Homo sapiens: one gene and its partner. The protein of the gene in region 2 purifies or fractionates together with the protein of the main gene of each other region. This does not show direct contact. Each region holds a gene or a part of one and is shown on either strand. Other genes may lie near its edges.

Region 1 (3,698 bases), on a different chromosome or scaffold from region 2:
CTGAGGCAGGAGAATGGCGTGAACCCGGGAGGCGGAGCTTGCAGTGAGGCGAGATGGCGCCACTGCACTCCAGCCTGGGAAACAGAGCCAGACTCGTCTTAAAAAAAAAAAAAAAAAAAAATCAAGATCTGATAAAGGACTTGCATTCAGAATATATCTTTTTTAACTTGTAAGAACAAGACAACCCAATTAAAAGAAGTAAAAGATCTGAATAGACACTTCTCCAAAGAAGATATACAAATGGCCAATAAGCACCGGAAGATGCTCAGCATCTTATGTCACTAGAGAAATGATCTAACTTGGATGAGATTAATTTGGATATGAGTGGTCCACTAGAATGGCCATAATTATAAAGGCAGACTATAAGCACTGCAAAAGATGTGGAGAAACTATAACCCTCCTACATTGCTAGTTAGAACATAAAATTATAGTCACTTTGAAAATAGTTCATAAGTTTCTTAAAAAATTAATCCAAACACTTGCATGACAATGTTTTGGGTGATGGAAATGTTCTAAAATCTAATTGTGGTGATGATTACACACACAACATCTTTCAACTCTACATTTAAAATGAATTTTATCATATGTAAATTATACCTCAACAAATATGTAAAAAAATTTAAGACAGATAAGACTTTATCAATATTTTATACGTGTATGTATGTACATACAGAGAGGGAGACAGAACAGGTTTGGGGCAATAAAAAACGGGCAGAATGATAACAACTGGTAAATCTGGATGCAGGGTATATGAGACATCCATGTATTATGCTGGCAACATTTCTGCCAGTTTGAAATTACATTAAGATTTAAGATTATCAACCAAAAGGTCAAGAATATAATGTAACAAGCTTCCTGTAACAATATCTATCTTTTTTCAATGAAGACCATATACAGCTTAAATTATTAGGAAATTGTAGATAATTTTAATGAAGTCAACGTCAAGAATATAATCTGGTTGTAATACCAATACAATGTGTTCTAAAATAATTTTTCTATTGAGTTAAATATTCATCTGTAGATCCTATAACAGCATGTTCATATTCACAAAATCTGAATGAAAAGTAAACACAACTTGGCATTTCTGACGCAGGGTAACACAAAGTTCACTTCGGAGGGGACTGAGATTTTTGTTTAATTTTGCTTTTGAAACCAAGCACAGTTATAGTCAAAATGAGGGACATTATTCAGAATGAGGTTATGTATTTATTTAACAAAATACTGCTTCTCTGAAGTACATTTCATTAGGGAGAGTGACAGTAATGCTAAAAAAAAGAACATGAAAATGCACACAGCATTTCTGAAAGGTTATAATAATTTATTTAATTTTTTTTTGAGACAGAGTCTCACTCTGTCACCCAGGCTGGAGTGCAGTGGCTCCTGTGATCTTGGCTCACTGCAACCTCCACCTCCTGGGTTCAAGCAATTCTCGTGCCTCAGCCTCTCAAGTAGCTGGGATTCCAGGCATGCACCCCACACCTGGCTATTTTTTTTTGTATTTAAATTTATTTTAATTTTTTTTTGAGGCAGAGTCTTGCTCTGTTGCCCAGGCTGGAGTGCAGTGGCATGATCTCAGCTCACTGCAACCTCCATCTCCCAGGCTCAAGCAATTCTCCTGCCTTGGCCCCCAGAGTAGCTGGGATTATAAGCACCTGCCACCATGCCCAGGTAATTTTTGCATGTTTAGTAGAGATGGGGTTTCACCATGTTGGCCAGGCTGGTCTCAAACTCTTGACCTCAGGTGATTTGCCCGCCTTGGCCTCTGAAAAGTGCTGGGATTACAGGCGTGAGCAACCGCGCCCAGCCCTATTTTTTTGTATTTTAGTAGAGACAGCGTTTCACCACGTTGGCCAGGCTGGTCTCGAACTCCTGGCCTCAAGCAATCCACCCGCCTCAGCCTCCAAAAGTGCTGGGATTACAGATGTGAGCCATGGCACCATGCCAAAAGGCTATATTCCTGGCTCTGTGTTTCCGAGACTGCTTTTAATCCCAACTTCTCTACATTTAGATTAAAAAATATTTTATTCATGGTCAATCTGGAACATAATTACTGCATCTTAAGTTTCCACTGATGTATATAGAAGGCTAAAGGCACAATTTTTATCAAATCTAGTAGAGTAACCAAACATAAAATCATTAATTACTTTCAACTTAATAACTAATTGACATTCCTCAAAAGAGCTGTTTTCAATCCTGATAGTTCTTTATTTTTTCAAAATATATTTGCCATGGGATGCTAATTTGCAATAGGTGTCATAATGAGAATAACCCAAACTGGATAAATGTGACAAATGATTGACAAAGCATTTCACACCCTTCAATTACACCACATCAAGAATGAGGGGAAAGCGTTGTAAAAGTAGACTACTGCAATGCTACTTGTATTCTTGCAATAAAACCAGCAAGCATCCATATCAAGAGAGTTATCATCTCACTTCCAACTTTTTCCCCTCAAGAACAATTTGAATCTCTTTGGCATCCAAAGTCTCATAGGTCAATAAAGCTTCTGCGAGATTCTTATGCTCCTTTGCATGAGTTTTCAAGATATGTTTTGCTCGTTCATATGAGTCCTGAAACAGAAAAGGAGATACGTAAGCAGCAGCAAATGCAGGGATGCGAAAACCAGTCAATGGGAAGAGAAAGAAAAACTTTATGTACCCTAAAAAATATGAAATCTGTTTATATTTATAAAATCATGTAGAATCTTGATTCTACAGTAGAGATAATTTGTGCATTATAACATAGTAAGGAAAAGAGAATAAACACCTGAGAAGGCAGAGACCACCTCTTCTATAACACTCTCTAAACCTTTCCATCATACAAACTTTCTGTATCCTTAACTACTCTAAAGCATTCCCTCTACTTCCTTGAAATAATCAAACCCATGGTCCCTCCTGTGGAGAATGCATTCCCTAAGCCCTCTCAAGTGCTATTTGTTCATGTTTACCCTAGTTACTTCACAGTAAACAGCTGAGCTCATTGTTCCCATTACCTCTTTCAGACCATTACTAACCTACCCTCTTATATAATGCACTCTTCCTATTCTGTTGAAGTCCAGGCCATTTGACTATGGAGCTATCCAACCGTCTTCATTGTGCCATCTGACAAACATAGTCCTTACTCACTAAAGACTTTGGCACTCAGCTCTGTCACTCTCTCTCTCTCTATTTTTTTTTCAGTCTCACTGTTGCTTAGGCTGGAGTGAAGTCAGGCAATCACAACTCACTACGGCCTCAACCTCCCTGGGCTCAGGTGATCCTCCCACCTCAGCCCAAGTAGCTGGGACTACAGGCATGAACCACCATGCCCAGCTAATTTTTCTATGTTTTGTAGAGATGAGGTTTTGCCATGTTGCCCAGGCTGGTCAGTCTTACCCTTAAAACCTGCCTGGCTGGGTGCGGTGGCTCACACCTGTAATCCCAGCACTTTGGGAGGCCAAGGCAGGTGGATCGTTTGAGCCCAGGAGTTCGACACCAGCCTGGGTAACATAGTGAAATGCTCTCTACAAAAAATAACAAAATTAGCTAGGCATGGCAGCATGCGCTTATAGTCCCAGCTACTCAGGAGGCTGAGGTGGGAGGATCACTTGAGCTTGGGAGACAGAGGTTGCAATGAGCCAAGATCACAGCACTGCACTCCAGCCTGGGTGACAGGGCAAGATGCTGTCTCAAAAAAAAAAAAAAAAAAAAAAAAAAAAA
Region 2 (4,469 bases):
TCAATATCAGAAAGGATGCTGATGAGAAGGTAAGAGAAGCATTTCAGCCTTTTCCAATTTGCTGTTATAGAGTAGCAAATAATAAGGTTGACGGAGTTTTGTGCAGTGTGTGTGTGTGTGTGTGTGTGTGTGTGTGTAACTTCAAAGAGAAAGAAAAAAACATATTTAATGTGTTCCTAGAAAATGTGGGATAAAAGATATGAAAGCACAACCAAAAAATATTAACAGGCTCTGAAGGGATTCTTTTAGAGTTGCTACAACTACAACGTGCAGATGAGAAATACTTCTTTAAAGTTATACAAAATGTTATCTTCTTTAAAAGCATAAGAAAAATATAAAGGCAATGCTACAGTCCAGAATTCATCACATCAAACATCTGACAAGTGGGCAAAATGCCAAAGCAGGAGACAGATTGGTCCAGATTAAAAGAATACTAGGGAAAGAGGCAATTCCTATGCAATTCCTTTAAGTGCCGAGGTGGGCCACAGGTATGTAAATTCTCATCTTCCACGAGGGCATTTCGTAGCCTCAACTGTTTACCAACTGCCTATAATTCAAGAACACCTTCCCAAACAACAGAGTTGAGCAAGCAATCTTTCAATGAATAAGGTTTCAATGAATAAGGCTATTGGCGATTTTTAAACCATAATAACTTTTGTCATTCCATGGTGGGCCAACGCTTTATTACGATATTTGGATTTCATGTGGCAAACTGTTTCATATACTGTCCCCAAAAATGCTACTCTCTGAAGGGGAATGCCATAAATAAAATACGTACTTGGTTACCAGGCAGCATGCATAACACATATGGTACATTGGCCCAAAAATCATATTTTAAAATGTTTAAAAGTTAACTTAACAATTTAAGCTGTTTGTACCCATTTTCAGAGAATTATTCCCTAAAGGCCAATTTTATTTTCTATCATCAAGAGAATACTTTGATTAATCCTGTTGATCTGCTAACTTGAAATTCTTTGAACCCCTCTAATCTCTCCTCCCAGACCCATTTTTTTTTCTTTATTTCCTGAAGGGGAGAACGAAGGACCATTTATCTCACAATGTAATTTTAAGCTTATGCTTAAAATGCTGCCTATTTGAATTAAAATTGATGCAGCTTGTGATAAGAACCTAATAATCAATTCTCCATTCTCATTACTCTCCAGAATTACATGGATGCAGACCCATTTCTTAAGTTTGTGGACTACTCTCATAGGTTATTACCCGGCAGTGCAGCTGAGTGGAAAGATAACCACATTCATTCTCCTTATCTGCAATGATGTAATGCATCCTAGCCCTGGGTCTAGATGATTGGGGAATAATGGGATTGTACAACTGCAGGGATGACAAACAATAGTGCAGCGTCTTTCTCTGATACACTGAACCCCACGCCTCCAACGCAAGGTGAAAGGCATCACAAAATAGGCACTGAGTCTGCCCCTTGGATGAAGTTAGCATTTTTTGGCCCGAGGAGCATCTGCTCTGGCACTGAAACAGCAATACCGACACGGAGACGAGAGCCATGCAAAAACACTCAGTTTCCGAGCCCCAGCCAGGACAGTGCGAGTGAGTATCCTGCTTTTCTTTGTGGTTAGAATCAAGTGTCATCTAAAAATAACCGGTTGGTAGGAAGAAGTCACTGCATAGTACAATGCCAAGAAACCCGGGGATCAGAGAGTCCTCCGATAACTGATGCTGCTCGGGGCTCACGTTTGTTTGGAAAACTAAATCTGCCTCCATTTTCTGTGCCGGAAAAATCATCGCTTCCTGCCACCACAGAAACCTTACCTTTTGCAGAAGCTGGGAACCGGAGTACTTAGCAGCAATGGATTTTATCTCCCCACCAAAAGCCGAGGCCCAGAGCTTCACCCTACAGGGAGAAGGGGCACAGGAAGATATGTAACACCCGTGTCACAGTCAACACGCACGCACACGCACACGCACACATGGGACTATGGCTGAAGGAGCAGTGCGATGTAACATGTTTTAAAAGAAGAAAAGATAGAAAAAGCGGCTTGGTAGAAACTGCCAGCACCAAAACTGCAAAGCGCAGCGCGGGAGGGGGCCCGAGGGGGGTCGCGGAGTTAAGAATGCGCAAAGTCTCCCAGGCTCTCTAAAAAGACCACTGAGTTTCATTCGAACCACTGCCCGAGGACTCGACCCCCCAAACTGGGCATCACCTGGCAAATAGCAGTCAGAAGAAATCCACCCATCCCCCCCCCAAAAAAAGAAGTGGGGCGGCAGTAGAGCAAAGAGGGGGGAAATTCAGCGGCCCATGGAAGTTGGATTCGGTAACCAGGCTCCAAAGTTGGTGCCGTCACTTGAGGTGAGCCTCTCCAGATCTCACTCGGCAACCTGCGGGCAGGGGCCAGAGCATCCCACCCCGGCCTCGCCGCCCGACGCGGGTCCCGAAAGGCAGGTGCGAGCGGCGAGGCCGACGCCCGCGGCGGGTCCTGCCCAGCCGCACCTGCAGGCGCCCAAACTTGGGCACAGTGGGTCGCAGGCGGCAAGGTCCCCTCCCCGGGCGGCGCAGGAGCCGGCACTTACACGGAGAGCGGTATCTGCTGCTCCGAGCGCACCACGTCCCCCAGCGCGGCGTAGAGAAGCGCGGCAGCGAGAAGCGCCGAGGCCCCCCGGGACGCGCGGCGCGGCGAGCCCGGCCCGGCCATGCTGGGCTCCCTCCGACGCGCCCGCTGCGGCGGCGACGAGAGCGGCCGCGGGGAGCTGCGCGGAGCGGGCGGTGGGCGAGCGCGCGGGGCTGCCTGCTCCGCTCCGCGCCGCCCCGCCTGCCTCTCGCGCGCCCGGCTCACTTGGGGAGCAGAAAAAGGAGCGGGTGGGGGGGGCGGGGAGGGCGGAGAGGAGAGGGAGGGAGGAGAGGTGGGGAGGGAGGGAGGAGAGGTGGGGAGGGAGGCGGGCGGGGGAGGAGGCAGCGAGACGCGCCTCTAGCAGCAGCAGCCGCCCGGCCCCGCCTCGGCGGCCCCGGGGAGTCCGGCGGGCCGCGGCGGGAGGGCGGCGGGGCAGGAGGCGCCGCGCGGGCGGGGACTCGGAAACTCCAGTGTCCTTGGCCGCGGCGGAGCGCGCCCTGCCCCACCCGGGCTACTGCGGCCGCTGAGTTCTTTACAACTCCGCAGTCCGCCACCGCGGGCGCGACTCTGGGGCTGGCCCCGGGCCGGGCGACCCTAGCCAGGGTGGGGGTTGGGGGCGCGGGAGGGAAGCCGAGGGCAGGGCGCGGCGCTCCGCACTTTGCGGGCGGCTGCTAGGAGAGGGCGTAGCATGCCCGCTCCGCCCCTGGGCCGGGCGGGGTCGGGGGCCGCGGAACCTAAAGGGGGCGCGCCCTCCGCCCCCGCCGCGCGATTCTCCTGCGGGGAGGGAGCTGGGGAAGAAGCAGAAATCTCAGAAAGGAGCACAGGCTCGCGGCGGCAGGCGGGATCGCACGCGGGGCGGATCGGGCTGGGGATGGGACTGGGTGGGAGCTCGGGGCTCTGGCTAGGGCAGCGCTGCGTGACCGCCCGCAGCTGCTCCTCCGGCCGCGGCGCCCGACAGGGGAAAGCACGGAGGGCGGTGCTGCCACCACGGCTTGGGCGCACCAGCGCGGGGCTCCCGGCATCCGGCCGCAGCGCAGCGGCCCCCTGCGCGCCCGACCCAGGCCCCGGGGCTCCCCAGCGGCCGCTGCCTTCGGAGTCCGCCCGGCTGCGGTGACTGGTGGGGACCGGGATGTCAGGGTTGAGCGAGGAAGCCAACGCGGCGCCGAGTCGATCCTGACCGGGGGACACCCTGGATTTCGGGATAAAAGATTTCTCCGAGCCTGGGGGATTGCCTGCTCCCCACTCCGGCGCCCACCGCACTGGGCAGGAGGCAGTGAGCGCCGGAGGAGGCGCCTTCTCGCCGCCCTCAGGGGCGAGGAGAAAGGAAGCCGGAGAAGCCCCTGCGCGTTCTGGGAACCAGGCTTCTCCCCGCCTCTCTCGCCGCTGCCCCCACCCCGGGACCCAGCTTGCAGAACCCCTCTCCCCCGTGCGAGGTATGGGGTGTGATTGGGAACTTTGTGGAGCCCTCGCGCAGGCTGGCGGTAAAGACCGACCGGAGTGAGGCTGAGTCATCCTTGCCCGGCCAAGCGCAACTCCGGTGACCCCAGCAAGGAGTGCGCTCCTAACGTCGCCGGGGCTCCCGGCGCACCAGACACCTGGGTTCATATTTGCATGCCTTTCTGCAACCAGGGCTTTGCTTTCTGCCCCGTCACCCGCCCTTGGCCTCAGCATCCTCAGGTTGCAGGGAAGTAAGGGCGGGCTCCAGCTTCCGCCAGGTGGTGTCCGGCTAGGAGCCAGGCCGGCTCTCCTTTCCAGTAGTCCCTGGAAAAAGTTACCCCTGCAGATGTTGGGCTTGATCTCAGAGTTGGCAGCGAGGGAGAAGGACTGCTACCGAGAGGCTCTTAGTGCTTTTCCCGAGTGCGGGCAGACCCGAGCTCCCCTGGGCTC

The links.
Region 1: the proteins of CACNA2D3 (region 2) and YME1L1 purify together in Homo sapiens (affinity purification with mass spectrometry, with the first as the bait; one large-scale study listed by BioGRID). This does not show direct contact.

The regions. Positions count from the first base shown.
Region 1 is NC_000010.11:27,109,551-27,113,248, forward strand, and holds the end of YME1L1 (ATP-dependent zinc metalloprotease YME1L1), read right to left. Parts: intron 2,571-3,698; coding exon 2,427-2,570; 3' UTR 561-2,426; downstream 1-560. UniProt on the Homo sapiens protein: ATP-dependent metalloprotease that catalyzes the degradation of folded and unfolded proteins with a suitable degron sequence in the mitochondrial intermembrane region.
Region 2 is NC_000003.12:54,120,911-54,125,379, reverse strand, and holds the start of CACNA2D3 (voltage-dependent calcium channel subunit alpha-2/delta-3 precursor), read right to left. Parts: upstream 2,829-4,469; 5' UTR 2,667-2,828; coding exon 2,545-2,666; intron 2,324-2,544; exon of another isoform or gene 1,938-2,323; intron 1,868-1,937; coding exon 1,786-1,867; intron 1-1,785. UniProt on the Homo sapiens protein: The alpha-2/delta subunit of voltage-dependent calcium channels regulates calcium current density and activation/inactivation kinetics of the calcium channel.